Linked DNA regions of Homo sapiens. The protein of the gene in region 1 purifies or fractionates together with the protein of each later gene. This does not show direct contact. Each region holds a gene or a part of one and is shown in the gene's direction. Other genes may lie near its edges.

Region 1 (2,437 bases):
TCCTGCCTCAGCCTCCCGAGTAGCTGGAACTACAGGCACGCGCCACCACACCCAGCTAACTTTTGTATTTTTAGTAGCTATGGGGTTTTACTATGTTGGCCAGGCTGGTCTCGAACTCCTGATCTCAAGTGATCTGCCCACCTAGGCCTCCCAAAGTGCTGGGATTACTGTGAGCCCACGCTCCCAAAGTGCTGGGATTACAAAGGCATGAGCCACTGTGCCCAGCCCCCTGCCGTTTTTTTTTTTTTTTGAGAGGGAGTTTTGCTCTTGTTGCCCAGGCTGGAGTGCAATGGCACAATCTTGGCTCACTGCAACCTCTGCCTCCTGGATTCAAGCATTCTCCTACCTCAGCCTCCCAAGTAGCTGGATTACAGGCATATGCCACCATGCCCAGCTAATTTTTGTATTTTTAGTAGAGATGGGGTTTCACCATGTTAGCCAGGCTGGTCTCGAACTCCTGACCTCACCTGATCCATCTGCCTCAGCCTCTCAGAGTGCTGGGATTACAGGTGTGAGCTACCACGCTTGGCCCCTTTTTTTCTTTTTCTTTTTTTTTTTTGAGATGGAGTCTCACTCTGTCACCCAGGCTGGAGTGCAGTGTCGCAATCTTGGCTCACTGCAACCTCTGTCTCCCGGGTTCAAGTGATTCTCGTGCCTCAGCCTCCTGAGTAGCTGGGATTACAGGCGTGCACCATATCGCCTGGCTAATTTTTGTATTTATTTATTTATTTATTTATTTATTTTTTGAGACGGAGTCTCGCTCTGTCTCCCAGGCAGTGGCACTATCTCGGCTCACTGCAAACTCTGCCCCCTGGGTTCACACCATTCTCCTGCCTCAGCCTCCCGAGTAGCTGGGACCACAGGCACCCGCCACCACGCCTGGCTAATTTTTTGTGTTTTTAGTAGAGATAGGATTTTACCTTGTTAGGATGGTCTCGATCTCCTGACCTCGTGATCTGCCCTCCTTGGCCACCCAAAGTGCTGGGATTACAGGCGTGAGCCACTGCTCCCGGCCTAATTTTTGTATTTTTAGTGGAGAGGGGCTTTCACCATGTTGGCCAGGCTGGTCTCAAACTCCTGACCTCAGGTGATCCGCCCACCTCGGCCTCCCAAAGTGCTGGGATTACAGGCATGAGCCACCGTGCCTGGCCTTTTTTTTTCTTTTAACTCTCACAACAACCCTATCTTCATTTTACAGATGTGGAAGTTGAGGCACAGAACAGTTAAATAAAAACAATTTAAAAATTGTGGTAAAAGATGCATAACCTAAATTTACCATGTAACCATTTTAACGCATATAATTCAGTAGCCTTTTAGCACAATGGCAGTGTTGTGCAACCATCACCACTACCTAGTTCCAGAATCTTTTCATCACCCTAAAAGGAAACCCTGTGCTCACCAAGTAGTCATTCTCCATTCCTTCCTTCTCTGAGCTCTTGGCAACCACTAATTTGCTTTCTGTCTCTGTGGGTTTATCTGTTCTGGATAGGCAAATGTGAGTTGCCTGTAAAGGGAATCATAACAATATGTGGCCTTTTGTGTCTGGCTTCTTCCACTTAGCGTATTTTCAAGGTGCATCCATGCCGTAGCATGTATCAGCACTGCATTCCTTTTTATGGCTGAATAATTCCATCATATGCATATACCACATTTTGTTTTTCCATTCATCCATTGATGGACATTTGATGTTGTGTCTACCTTTTGGTGATTGTAAATAGTGCTGCTGTGAGTATCCTTGTTTTATTTGAACAGCTGTTTTCAGTTCTTTTGGGTATATGTTTAGGACTGGGATTGCTGGGTCATATGGTAATTCTATATTTATGTTATGGAACTAGTTAAGTAAATTTCAGCTCAATCACACTTTTTTTTTTTTTTTTTTTTTTTTTTTTGGAGACAGGGTCTCACTCTGTGCAATGGCACGATCTTGGCTCACTGCAGCCTCCACCTCCCAGGTTCAAGCGATCCTCCCACCTCAGCCTCTTGAGTAGCTGGGATTACAGGTGCATGCCACTGCACCCAGCTAAATTTTTTGAATTTTTTGTAGAGACAGGGTTTGCGACATTGTTCAGGCTGGCCTTGAACTCCTGAGCTCAAGCAGTCCACCCACCTTGGCCTCCCAAAGTGCTAGGTTTACAAGGGTGAGCTACCGTGCCCGGCCCAGTCCGATGTTTGGTAATTGACAAAACACGGATTTGAAATCAGACAGTCTGGCTTTAGACCCCTTGCTCTGAACTATCACTTTATTGCTTATCACTGTTACTGTTGTTCCAGTATTAAGAGCATGGCTGTTTTAGGCTGATTGCCTTCTCTCCTGGGACCTGGCATCACCAAAGCACTATGTGCTCGGAAATCCATTATCTTTCCCCAGTCTTTCCTCCGTTATTGTGAGGCCTTTTGAAAATGTACCTTCCGGCCTCCCTGATGTCAGAGGGAGGCA
Region 2 (3,500 bases), on another chromosome or scaffold:
TTAAAAAATCTGACAATAGACTGGGTGCAGTGGCTCATGCCTGTAATCCCAGCACTTTGGGAGGCTGAAGCAGGTGGATCACCAGAGGTCGAGTTCGAGACCAGCCTGGCCAACATGGTGAAACCCCGTCTCTACTAAAAATACGAAATTAGCTGGGTGTGGTGGTGGGTACCTGTAAATCCCAGCTACTCGGGAGGCTGAGGCAGGAGAATTGCTTGAACCTGGGAGGCAGAGGCTTTAGTGAGCTGAGATCACAGCACTGCACTCCAGTCTGGGTGAGTCAGAGGCAGACTCCGTCTCAAAAAAAAAAAAAATCTGACAATATCAAGCATCAGGATATGGGGCAACAGGGACTCATATAGGGGTGTGAATTAGTATAGCTGCTATTGAAAAATAACTCAACATGATCTTGTAAAAATGAAGTTGGGAAGATACACATGACCTATGACCTAGCAGTTCTACTCATAGATACATACTCCTGAGACTTTTCTTGTACTACAGTATAAGGGGACAATCTACAAAGATGTTCATTGTACTGTTTGTAATAGCAAAAATCCAGGAAACAACACAATGTCTATAGATACAGAATGGATGAATAAATTGCAGTATATTCACATAATGGAGTAGCATACAACAGTGAAAATGATTCAGCTACAGCTGTACATAACACAGAATGAAAAACGTGAAGAAATTAACAGTATATTATATACAGAGATAAACTTCAAGGGAATGATAAATATAAAATTCAGAATGGTAGTCACTCAAGGGGAAGGACATACAGGGTTTCAAAGACAGTAATTTTCTCCGGGTAGTGAAAATGGTGTTTGTGGCATTACTATTCCTCATGCCTTACCAATTTCATAAATACTCTTTTTATCTGCAAGATTTACTTTTAAAATTTGCAAAAATTAAATCTTATTGGAAAGATAAAATATTTAGAATTAATCAATAATGAAAGTATTATATAGCTTGATACAACAAAACTTGTGATTTGCAGCTGAGTGCCTAATATGTATCTGGCACTGTATCAACCACTGAGGATGTAACAATAATCTTGCCTCCCTGGAACTTCCATTGTATTTGTAGAAGACAGACAGGAAAATCAGCTTCTGAACTTTACAATGTAGAAGTTGATATGTAACATGGAGGAAAAGAGAATAGGAAATGTTTGGGTGTGGGGCAGGAAGATTTCCTCGAGCACACGGCATTCAGCAAAGACTTGAAGGGGGATGAAAATGTGAGCCATGTAAATATCCAGGAAAAGAGTGTTCCAGACAGAGGGGACTGCTAATGCAAAGGCCCTGGAAGGGATGTGTGCCCAGTGTGTTGAGGAAACACAGCCCAAATGCCTGAAGTAGTGTAAGCAAGGGCAACAGGGACCCTGTCAGGCAATAAAGAGACTTTGGCTTTTACTTTGAATTGAGATGGAGAGAGACTTAAAACATGCTTGAGCAGAGGAGGGAAGTAATCTTTAAACAAACAAACAAACAACAACAACAAAAAAAACAGAATCTCTGCTTCTTGTGTTGAGAGTTGACTGAAGGGGCCAAGGGCAGAAGCAAGGACACCAATGTATTACAGTGTTCCAGCAGGGAGATATCAGTGGCATAGACCAGAGTGGGAGTGTAGAATGGGTAAGAAGTGGTCATAGTGTAAGTATATAGTCACATGCTGCATAATGACGTTTTGGTCAATGACGGGCTGCATATACGGCAGTGGTCCCATTAGATTATAATACTGTGTTTTTACTGTACCTTTTCTATGTTTAAATGTGTTTAGATACACAAATGCTTATCATTTTGTTACAATTAATTGCCTGCAGTATTCAGTACAGTCACATGCTGCACAGGTTTATAGCCTAGGAGCAGCAGGCTGTACCACAGAGCTCAGGTGTGTCCTATCGGGTTCAAATCAGCCTATTTATGCTAACTCCAACCAGCTGAGAAGTTTCACAACGAATCAGTGCCAATTAAATGCTTAGGAATTCACGATTTATTGTGTGGCTTCTACACAACAATCATGTAACTCTATCCAACACACATAGGCATTAATAGAGAAGGGAAACACAGCAAGTATTCTGGGAGACCAGCACACTGACTGAGAAAACCAGGTTTGGTTTTCCTCAGAATGCCCACTGACCTGGTGGTGGGTAGCTGCTCTTTTCCCAGAGGGCTTACCACAGCCAAAGGAAAGGAGGCCTCAGAGTTCTCATGGGCAGAGATTCTGCAGGCATCTCAGCCATGATTGGCTTTTACGGCTCTCCACAGACATCTCCATGGCCATTATCTTCAGCTGACTTTTGGCTTTACTTTCTTGTCAGGTGTCAGGGATGCCTGGCCACAGCAGATGCTATCTTATCACCTCAGTCCACCACACATATGCTTACTACTCTGAGTGGTCAGTGATTTCACTGTAAGCTGAGTCACTTGTCATAAGTGACTCCATTATGAGACATTTATGATCATAAAACATAATTATATATCAGTGCATAATAGGCTATACCATCTAGGTTTGTGTAAGTGCACTCTAGGATGTTTACACGTGACAAAAATCACTTAACAACATATTTTCCAGAACACATCCCTGTCATTAAGCAATGCATGACTGTATTTTGAAGGGTTTACTAACTGATTAAATGTGGGCTAGGAAAGGAAGAGACGAAGATTATTTCATTTCTGCCTTGGTAACTGAAAGAATAGGGTTATTGTGAACTGAAATGTAGGTGACTATAGAAAAGCAGATTTGAGGGGGAAATTTGAGGAACTCAGTTTTGGAGTGTTAAGTTTCAAGATGCCTTTTAGACATCCAAGTAGATATGTATAGTAAGCAGTTGGTTATGTCTTGAGGTCGGGGCAGAGATCTGGACTAGACATATAAATTTGAGAGCCATCGACAAAAAGAAGATATTTAAAGACATAAGATCGAAGGTCTTACTTAGAAAATAGTTCACATAAAAAGGAGGTTTGGAGACTGAGTCCAAGGCACCCCAATATTAAGAAGTTAGCAAATTAAGAGAAACCTACAAAGGAGTCTTAGAAGAAGTGGCCAAAGAGGTGGGGGAAAACCATGGTTTGTATTAGTGATCTTGAAAAAGTAGTATTAATGGAAAGAAGGGAATGAAAGCTTGATTGAAATGGGTTTAAGAAGATAGGAGGAGGACGTGTAATCTCTTGAGGAGTTTTTCTACGAAAGGAAATAGAAATGTTTTAAGTAGGGGGGAAGTGAGGTCAAGAGAAAGCTTTTTAAAAAATAACATCATATTTGTATGCTGATGACAGTAATCTAGAAGAGAAAATTTTGTGTAGGAGAGAGGCCTGGAAAGAAGTCCTTAAGAAGGCAGGACTCTAATATGCAAGAGAAGGGGTTGCCCTTAGATAGAAATGTGCACGTCCTTCTGCAGACTTTGGAGGGAAGACAGAATATATGTGTACAGATTATTGTATGCAGTAGATACAGTAGTGTAAGCTTGTGGAAGTTCTCATCTGATTGCTCCTATTTGC
Region 3 (3,500 bases), on another chromosome or scaffold:
CATTTTCCATATTTACTCTTCTGGTTATTTTTACCTTGTATATAACAGCAGTTGCAATGAGAACTTAGATAAAGGAAAGGGGCTTATAGCTAACAGCTTAGCTTCTTGTTAGTCAGTAGGGACTCTCCAGTATGTGTGTATAAATGAGGATGAACTTTTCTGGCTATGATTTTTTAAGTTTTTTATTTTTATCAGAATTCCACATGCTCATTAAATGTCAAGTTGCAATAAAGTTTGTTTTGGAAAAAGCAATCCCCCAACCCCCCTGTCCCATTTCCTGTTCCCCTAAGGCAGTCATCTTGAAACATTTTAACTAATTCTTTTGGTTTTTCATCTCCCTGTCTTTAAGCAACATGCTTATATAATTGTAACACTTGCATTTTTTTTCTTTTTCTGTTAGTTTTCTCCATTATTTCCGGGCTTCTCTCTGTGGAAGATAAGGATTTAGTTTTCTCTTATCCCTGTTTCCCTGCCACATTCAAGCTCGTTTTTGTCCCCATCCCTAGCTTTCCATTCAGAAGTGTGATTTTGGGCAGATGTGTTCATATCCATTGTGACTGTGTAAATATGCTTCACAACTGAACCATGGCGGGTACTGTGATTACTTTTCCTGCACAAGTTTTTGCTTTCCTTGGAGTTACTAATTATCTTTTTTGTTTGCATAGTGTATATAACTATGACCAGATTATTTTGAAAATAAATCCCAGTTATGTAAGTTTTTTCTTAGTATATTTAAACGCATCAAGTGCTATGATCGCTTTTATCTACTTGAGAAAAGTCCCTTGTGGAGCCTTCTGACCGGCTTGATCTGAACAGGTTACCCCCTGCACCTGAAGCATCACGGTCAGCCTGGGCTATTTTTTTTTTTGAGATGGAGTTTTGCTGTTGTTGCCCAGGCTGGAGTGTACTGGCACAATCTCAGTTCACTGCAACCTCCACCCTTGGGCTCAAGTGATTTTCCTGCCTCAGCCTCCTGAGTAGCTGGGATTACAGGCGCCCACCACTATGCCTGGCTAAGTTTTGTATTTTTAGTAGAGATGGGGTTTCATCATGTTGGCCAGGCTGGTCTCGAACTCCATACCTCACATGATCCACCCACCTCGGCCTCCCAAAGTGCAGGGATTACAGGCATGAGCCACCATATGTGGCCTGGGCTATTCTTTTTACTGTCATCTTGGGGATTTTTTTTTTTTGTTTGAGACGGAGTCTCGTTTTGTTGCCCAGGCTGGAGTGCAGTGGCGCGATCTTGGCTCACTGCTCCCTCTGCCTCCCAGGTTCAAGTGATTCTCCTGCCTTAGCCTCCCGAGTAGCTGGGACTACAGGCATGTGCCACCATACCTGGCTAATTTTTTGTATTTTCAGTAGAGACGGGGTTTCACCGTGTTAGCCAGGATGGTGTTGATCTCCTGACCTCGTGATCCACCTGCCTCAGCCTCCCAAAGTGTTGGGATTGCAAGCGTGAGCCACCGCGCCCGGCCTGGGGATTCTTTTTAGCACCTGAGTTGGAAACCCTTCTTTCTTGGATTATTCCCTTGTTTTAGTGAAGCACATCTTCTAATAGAGAAAGTGCATAAGAGTTACATTTTTGAGACCTTGTGTGTCTGCAAACTTTGATTCACTGCTCAAACTTTAGTTTGGGAGGGTACAGAAGTGCAGGATGAAAATAATTTTTCTAGAATTTTGTTCCACTATCGTATTATTACTGTTGAGAAGTGCGGTGATATTCTGATCCTCATACCTTTGTCTGAGACGTGTTCTTTCTCTTTGGAAGTGTTCCTTTTTTTTGTTGTTGTTTTTTGTTTTTCGAGGCAGAGTCTCGCTCTGTTTCCCAGGCTGGAGTGCAGTGGTGTGATCTCTGCTCACTGCAAGCTCCGCCTCCTGGGTTCATGCCATTCTCCTGCCTCAGCCTCCTGAGTAGCTGGGACTACAGGTGCCTGCCACCACGCCCGGCTAATTTTTTGTAGAGACGGGGTTTCACCTTGTTAGCCAGGGTGGTCTCCATCTCCTGACCTTGTGATCTGCCCGCCTCGGCCTCCCAAAGTGCTGATATTACAGGCATGAGCCACTGTGCCTGGCCGAAGCTTTTCTTTTCTTCTCTTTTTCTTGTTTTTTTTTGTTTTGTTTTGTTTTGTTTTTTTTTTGAGATGGAGTCTCACTCTGTTGCCCAGGCTGGAGTGCAGTGGTGTGATCTTGGCTCACTGCAAGCTCTGCCTCCCAGGTTCATGCCATTCTCCTGCCTCAGCCTCCCAAGTAGCTGGAACTACAGGTGCCCGCCACCACGCCTGGCTAATTTTTTTTGTATTTTTATTAGAGACAGGGTTTCACCATGTTAGCCAGGATAGTCTCGATCTCCTGACCTCGTGATCCGCCTGCCTCGGCCTCCCAAAGTGCTGGGATTACAGGTGTGAGCCACGGCGCCCGGCCTCTCTTAGGAAGCTTTTCTATCCTCTGTTCTACATTTCATAGTCAGTTTGGCTATGTGTCTGTTTTTATCCATCACAGACAAACTGGAGGGGCCCTTCTTATCTGGGGGCTCGTCCCATCTTATCCTTTAGTTCAGGGGAATTTTCTTAAATTTTTTATTCTATCTTTTCACCTCCATTTTCTTTTTTAATGCCTTTATTTAGATTTTGGACCTTTTAAACTAGTCTCTGACTTTACCTTTTCTCTTCAGTTTTTCATCTTTTTTGCAGAATCTTCTGGAAGGTTTCTTCAACTTCAGTTTTCAGGTCTTCTACTTAATTTTTACATTTCTCCTGTCATATTTTTACTTTTGAAGTTGTTTTTGTTCTCAGACTCTTATTTGTTTATTTAATAACACCTTGTTATTTTATGGATGTAGTGGCTTAATAAACGAGATCTTCCTAAGGATTTTTTTAAAAGGTTCTCTTCTTTCTGTCATGGTCTATGTCCTCCAGGTTACTTTCTCCAGTTTGTTCGGTACCTATCTTTTCAGTGGAGGCTCTTCTCGAGTGTCTGGTGATTCTGACTTTTCAGTGTTCCATTGGAAATTCCGTGTACCTGATGGGTTTGGTTTACTGTGGGTCTTGGGTGTTTCTCGGCCTTGTTTACTGTGGGTGATCTGGCTGGGCTCTTCTGTTGGGGAATCCCTGATGTTAGTATTTTTAGGTCTGATCACATTCTGGAGAGAAAGTATTTCATAACCTGCTGTTGTTCTGGACCTGGGTTGGTGATCTCAACATGTACTGTGTACACTTTTATTTAAGCCGTTTTCAGTAGTACCGCTGCTTTCAGCTGTGGCTTGCATCCATCCTGTAAGAGGCTCTATGTTACTCTTTCCTGCAAGTTTGCAGTTTTCTGCTGGGTTGAGTAGGGAGTCGTCTAGTCATCTGCGGATGGGAGAGGGGATCTGACATCTATCCTAACTGCTTCGAAAACAAGACTTTGAAGGGATCTTTCTATTTTTAGACCTAACTTTCACTCATATTTCCAGAGCTATGAGGTGTCACCAATCCCTAAGACTTTTAAGGGTAATATAG
Region 4 (3,434 bases), on another chromosome or scaffold:
CAAGTCTTTGGCACAAAAGTCCATGCTCTTAATCACTATGACATGTTCCTTCTCTTCTACAGGTGATGAGAATGGGACAGTCTCCCTTGTGGACACCAAGAGTACAAGCTGTGTCCTGAGCTCAGCTGTACACTCCCAGTGTGTCACTGGGCTGGTGTTCTCCCCACACAGGTACTGTTCTTTGTCATCAGGGGCCTGATGGGTATAAATGGGAACCGTGAGGGTGTGTGTGTATGTTTTCAAAGCATTAGCTGATGAAGTAGTTCCTTAAAGCAGACAGTGTTCTAGCTGAGGTTTCGGAACATCGAAGATCTCTTAAGTGTGAAGTAGAATCCTTTGGGAGTCAAAGGATTTTTCAGATTAGATGGTTTCTGTCTGAAATGGCTAAAATGTGATTTCATTCCTGCCCAACACCCAAAATGGTTAATGTTGTGGGCTTCTAGGACTGTGAGATTGGAAAAGCCTGTGTTTCTGGGTTATTGCTGAAGCTATAGAGAGGGACCAGATGGGGTGGTTAGTTGCCAGGATGGTTGTCAACCCTAACTTTGCTTCATTTCCCTCATCTTTACTTGAAACTTTTAGTGTGGACTTGTAGTAGCCAGATTAGCCAAAAGTGGGAATCAGGCTGCCTCTCCTGGGTCACTTTACAGTGGCGGCAGGGCCGGCCCAGTTAAGGTTTTGTCTTGGGATCCAGGCTGGACCTTTCACAACCCTCTCCTCCATCTGATAGTGTTCCCTTCCTGGCCTCTCTCAGTGAAGACTGCTCACTTGCTGTGCTGGACTCAAGCCTTTCTGAGTTGTAAGTGTGAAGTGGAATCCTTTGGGAATCAGGGAAGGGGAGCAGTGGGTGGGCGAGTCATTTTCCTCTTCAGAAAACTGTGTTGTGCTTTTGGAGAACAGATTCTCCATCTGTATCCGAAGGGACTTGGTAATGGAAGCAGGCTGGCTGTTGACCCTGTCCATTCCTGGGGCACATTCACAACCCCAAGGACAAGCCGTGTCCTTGGTAGAGGGGGGTGGTAGGTGAAATTTTTAAGTCTAGCCCTCCAGCGCTCTCCCACAAGGGGGCGGCAGTCTACCCTCTCACATAAAGAACTGCGTATGAAATGCAGCCTGCTACAGGGTAAAAGGCAGCACCTGGAAGACCTGAATTGTACTTCCCTCCTTGCCGTGATTTGCTGCCTGTTACTGCCCCTCATCACTGTCTTGTTCTATCCAGCATTTCTTCATCTATGAAAATAGAAGACTGGATTGGATGACTGATGACATCCACTGTGGATAGCTACACTGCTATCCTGGCGATGAGGCCATACAGTTGGTGAAATGTGTGTAACACACCCAAAAAATGTGCCCCAGATGTGTTGGGTTCTCTTTTTTTCTCCAGGTCTGCTTTTCTTGTCTCTACTCTGCCCCGACTTTTTTTCTTTCTTCTAGGTTTAGAAGCCAAGCCCACAGAGACTTTGTGAGAGATGCGACTTGGTCCCCGCTCAATCACTCCCTGCTTACCACAGTGGGCTGGGACCATCAGGTCGTCCACCACGTTGTGCCCACAGAACCTCTCCCAGCCCCTGGACCTGCAAGTGTTACTGAGTAGATTGGATTTAAGACAAAAAGCAAGTCCCCCATGAGTGTCCACTTCTTTGCCCTGCCCTCTCAGCTTGTGAGACAACACAGGAGCCTTCTATAGTATGTTGATATGCTAGATCTGTGCCGTTAATAGGCATCGTCTCTCAGCCTGAGGGAGGCTGGATTCTGGGTTCCTGTAGTCACAGGGAGGAAAAGCTTTCTTAAAAATGGACATGTATGTGCGTGTGAGTGTGTGTGTAGATTTATAGTTTTTGGTAGTGGCAGGAATAAAAAAAATCCATCCTACATCTTCCCTAAGCACTGCCTCTCTCTCACCCCCCAAAACAAGTTGACGAAAGGGTTTTATGTAGCTGTCTATGAGGAATTGGCCGTGTCTGGGTGGGTTATGGGATGTGGGCATCCCTGGGTTCTTGGAAGCAGCTCTTATGCTACTCATAGAGATGGGATTGACTTTATTTTTTTATAGTGCTTAATTCACCATTATGAGAAATGCTTCCAGTCACAAAAATGCAGCCCAGCTCACTCTGAGGAAGAAGCAGGACTTGGTACGGTTTTACACAACTCCTTACCATTAAACTGAATCAGAAATCCATTTTCTGGCTGAATAAAAAGTTTGGCTTGCCTGTGTAATGCCCACTCCCTTCCCCCTGGCTCCCTAGTGATGGGACATATATGAGAGAGAAGTGTTTTTCTATCATAGACACCATAGGGGAAAGTTTGGGGATGAAGGAGAGCTTAAAGGTGTTTCAATTAAGTTAGAAAACTGACACAGGCTGTTGAGAATTCTTTGCCACTTTTCCCACCCCAAAACAGCATGGGGCCTGACATCTTCTGCCCTGGTCCCCTTTCTCTTGATGTGGAAAGTCTGAATGCAGTATTTATAGACTTCTAAGGTTTTAAAATCCAGTATCAAGAAGAAAATCAGAAATACTGGTTGGTGAAATAAAGAGTTTAGGCATTGTTGGCCTGTCTTTTTTGAAGCATGTGTGTTATGTGTAGTTAGATATATTTCACTTATGTGAGTCATCATGGTGTTGGTCTTGTAGCCCATTATTTTTCCTGTGCTTCCCCAGCTTCCCAAAGTAGCTAGTTAGAACTTAAGGTAAATATTTATTCTTGGGTTGGTGGAGTGGATATTGCCAGTTAGGAGTCATGGATCAATTACTGATTATATTGAAAGTAAATATAATCAATTATGTACTTTTGAGCTTTGCAGGTTCAATTTAGGTAAAAATCACATTATGAAACTGGGAAAGTCTGAAGGAATATGGGCAAAATATTTCTCAGTAAAGCTTCCATGCTTCACCCTTGACATGATTACCCTTGAGTAAAACATGGGAATTTGTAGTTGTGTGATCCTCTGGCGTTGATGTGGAGTAGGAATAAAGTCTTGCATCATTTTTATAATGTGGGAGGAAATAGAATGGGTAGGTACAATCACTTAAGTTCTGCCTCTCGAAGATAAAACTTTAATTTTGTGGACACTTAGAGAAAGTAAGGGGTGGGGGAGCTTGAGGTGAGTAGGAATTTGCATAGCCCTTTTCTTCCTGGACTTAAGAATGATGGAGAAAAAACTCAGTGAAAGAGATAAGGAAGCAAATGTGTGGAAATGTGTGATAAGGAAGGAAATGTGTCAAGGTGGTTACAATATGGAAGGGAAGCATAGGTTTTTTTTTTCTTTTGTTGAGATGGAGTTTCACTCTTGCTGCCCAGGCTAGTGTGCAGTGGCATGATCTTGGCTCACTGCAACCTTCGCCTCCTGGGTTCAAGCAATTCTCCTGTCTCAGCCTCTTGAGTAGCTGGGATTACAGGCTAATTTTTGTGTGTTTAGTAGAGACAGGGTTTCA

What was found. Proteins that work in one complex are often made in the same cells at the same time.
Region 2: the proteins of COPRS (region 1) and ACAD11 purify together in Homo sapiens (co-immunoprecipitation; 2 studies listed by BioGRID and IntAct, with this or other methods). This does not show direct contact.
Region 3: the proteins of COPRS (region 1) and ATE1 purify together in Homo sapiens (co-immunoprecipitation; 2 studies listed by BioGRID and IntAct, with this or other methods). This does not show direct contact.
Region 4: the proteins of COPRS (region 1) and WDR77 purify together in Homo sapiens (affinity purification with mass spectrometry; 3 studies listed by BioGRID and IntAct, with this or other methods). This does not show direct contact.

What each region holds. Positions count from the first base shown.
Region 1 is NC_000017.11:31,853,808-31,856,244, reverse strand, and holds part of COPRS (coordinator of PRMT5 and differentiation stimulator), read left to right. Parts: intron 1-2,437. UniProt on the Homo sapiens protein: Histone-binding protein required for histone H4 methyltransferase activity of PRMT5.
Region 2 is NC_000003.12:132,653,310-132,656,809, reverse strand, and holds part of ACAD11 (acyl-CoA dehydrogenase family member 11), read left to right. Parts: intron 1-2,139; exon of another isoform or gene 2,140-2,380; intron 2,381-3,500. UniProt on the Homo sapiens protein: Acyl-CoA dehydrogenase, that exhibits maximal activity towards saturated C22-CoA.
Region 3 is NC_000010.11:121,914,532-121,918,031, reverse strand, and holds part of ATE1 (arginyl-tRNA--protein transferase 1), read left to right. Parts: intron 1-3,500. UniProt on the Homo sapiens protein: Involved in the post-translational conjugation of arginine to the N-terminal aspartate or glutamate of a protein. This arginylation is required for degradation of the protein via the ubiquitin pathway. Does not arginylate cysteine residues.
Region 4 is NC_000001.11:111,439,390-111,442,823, reverse strand, and holds the end of WDR77 (methylosome protein WDR77), read left to right. Parts: intron 1-62; coding exon 63-171; intron 172-694; coding exon of another isoform or gene 695-730; coding exon 731-799; intron 800-1,434; coding exon 1,435-1,594; 3' UTR 1,595-2,934; downstream 2,935-3,434. UniProt on the Homo sapiens protein: Non-catalytic component of the methylosome complex, composed of PRMT5, WDR77 and CLNS1A, which modifies specific arginines to dimethylarginines in several spliceosomal Sm proteins and histones.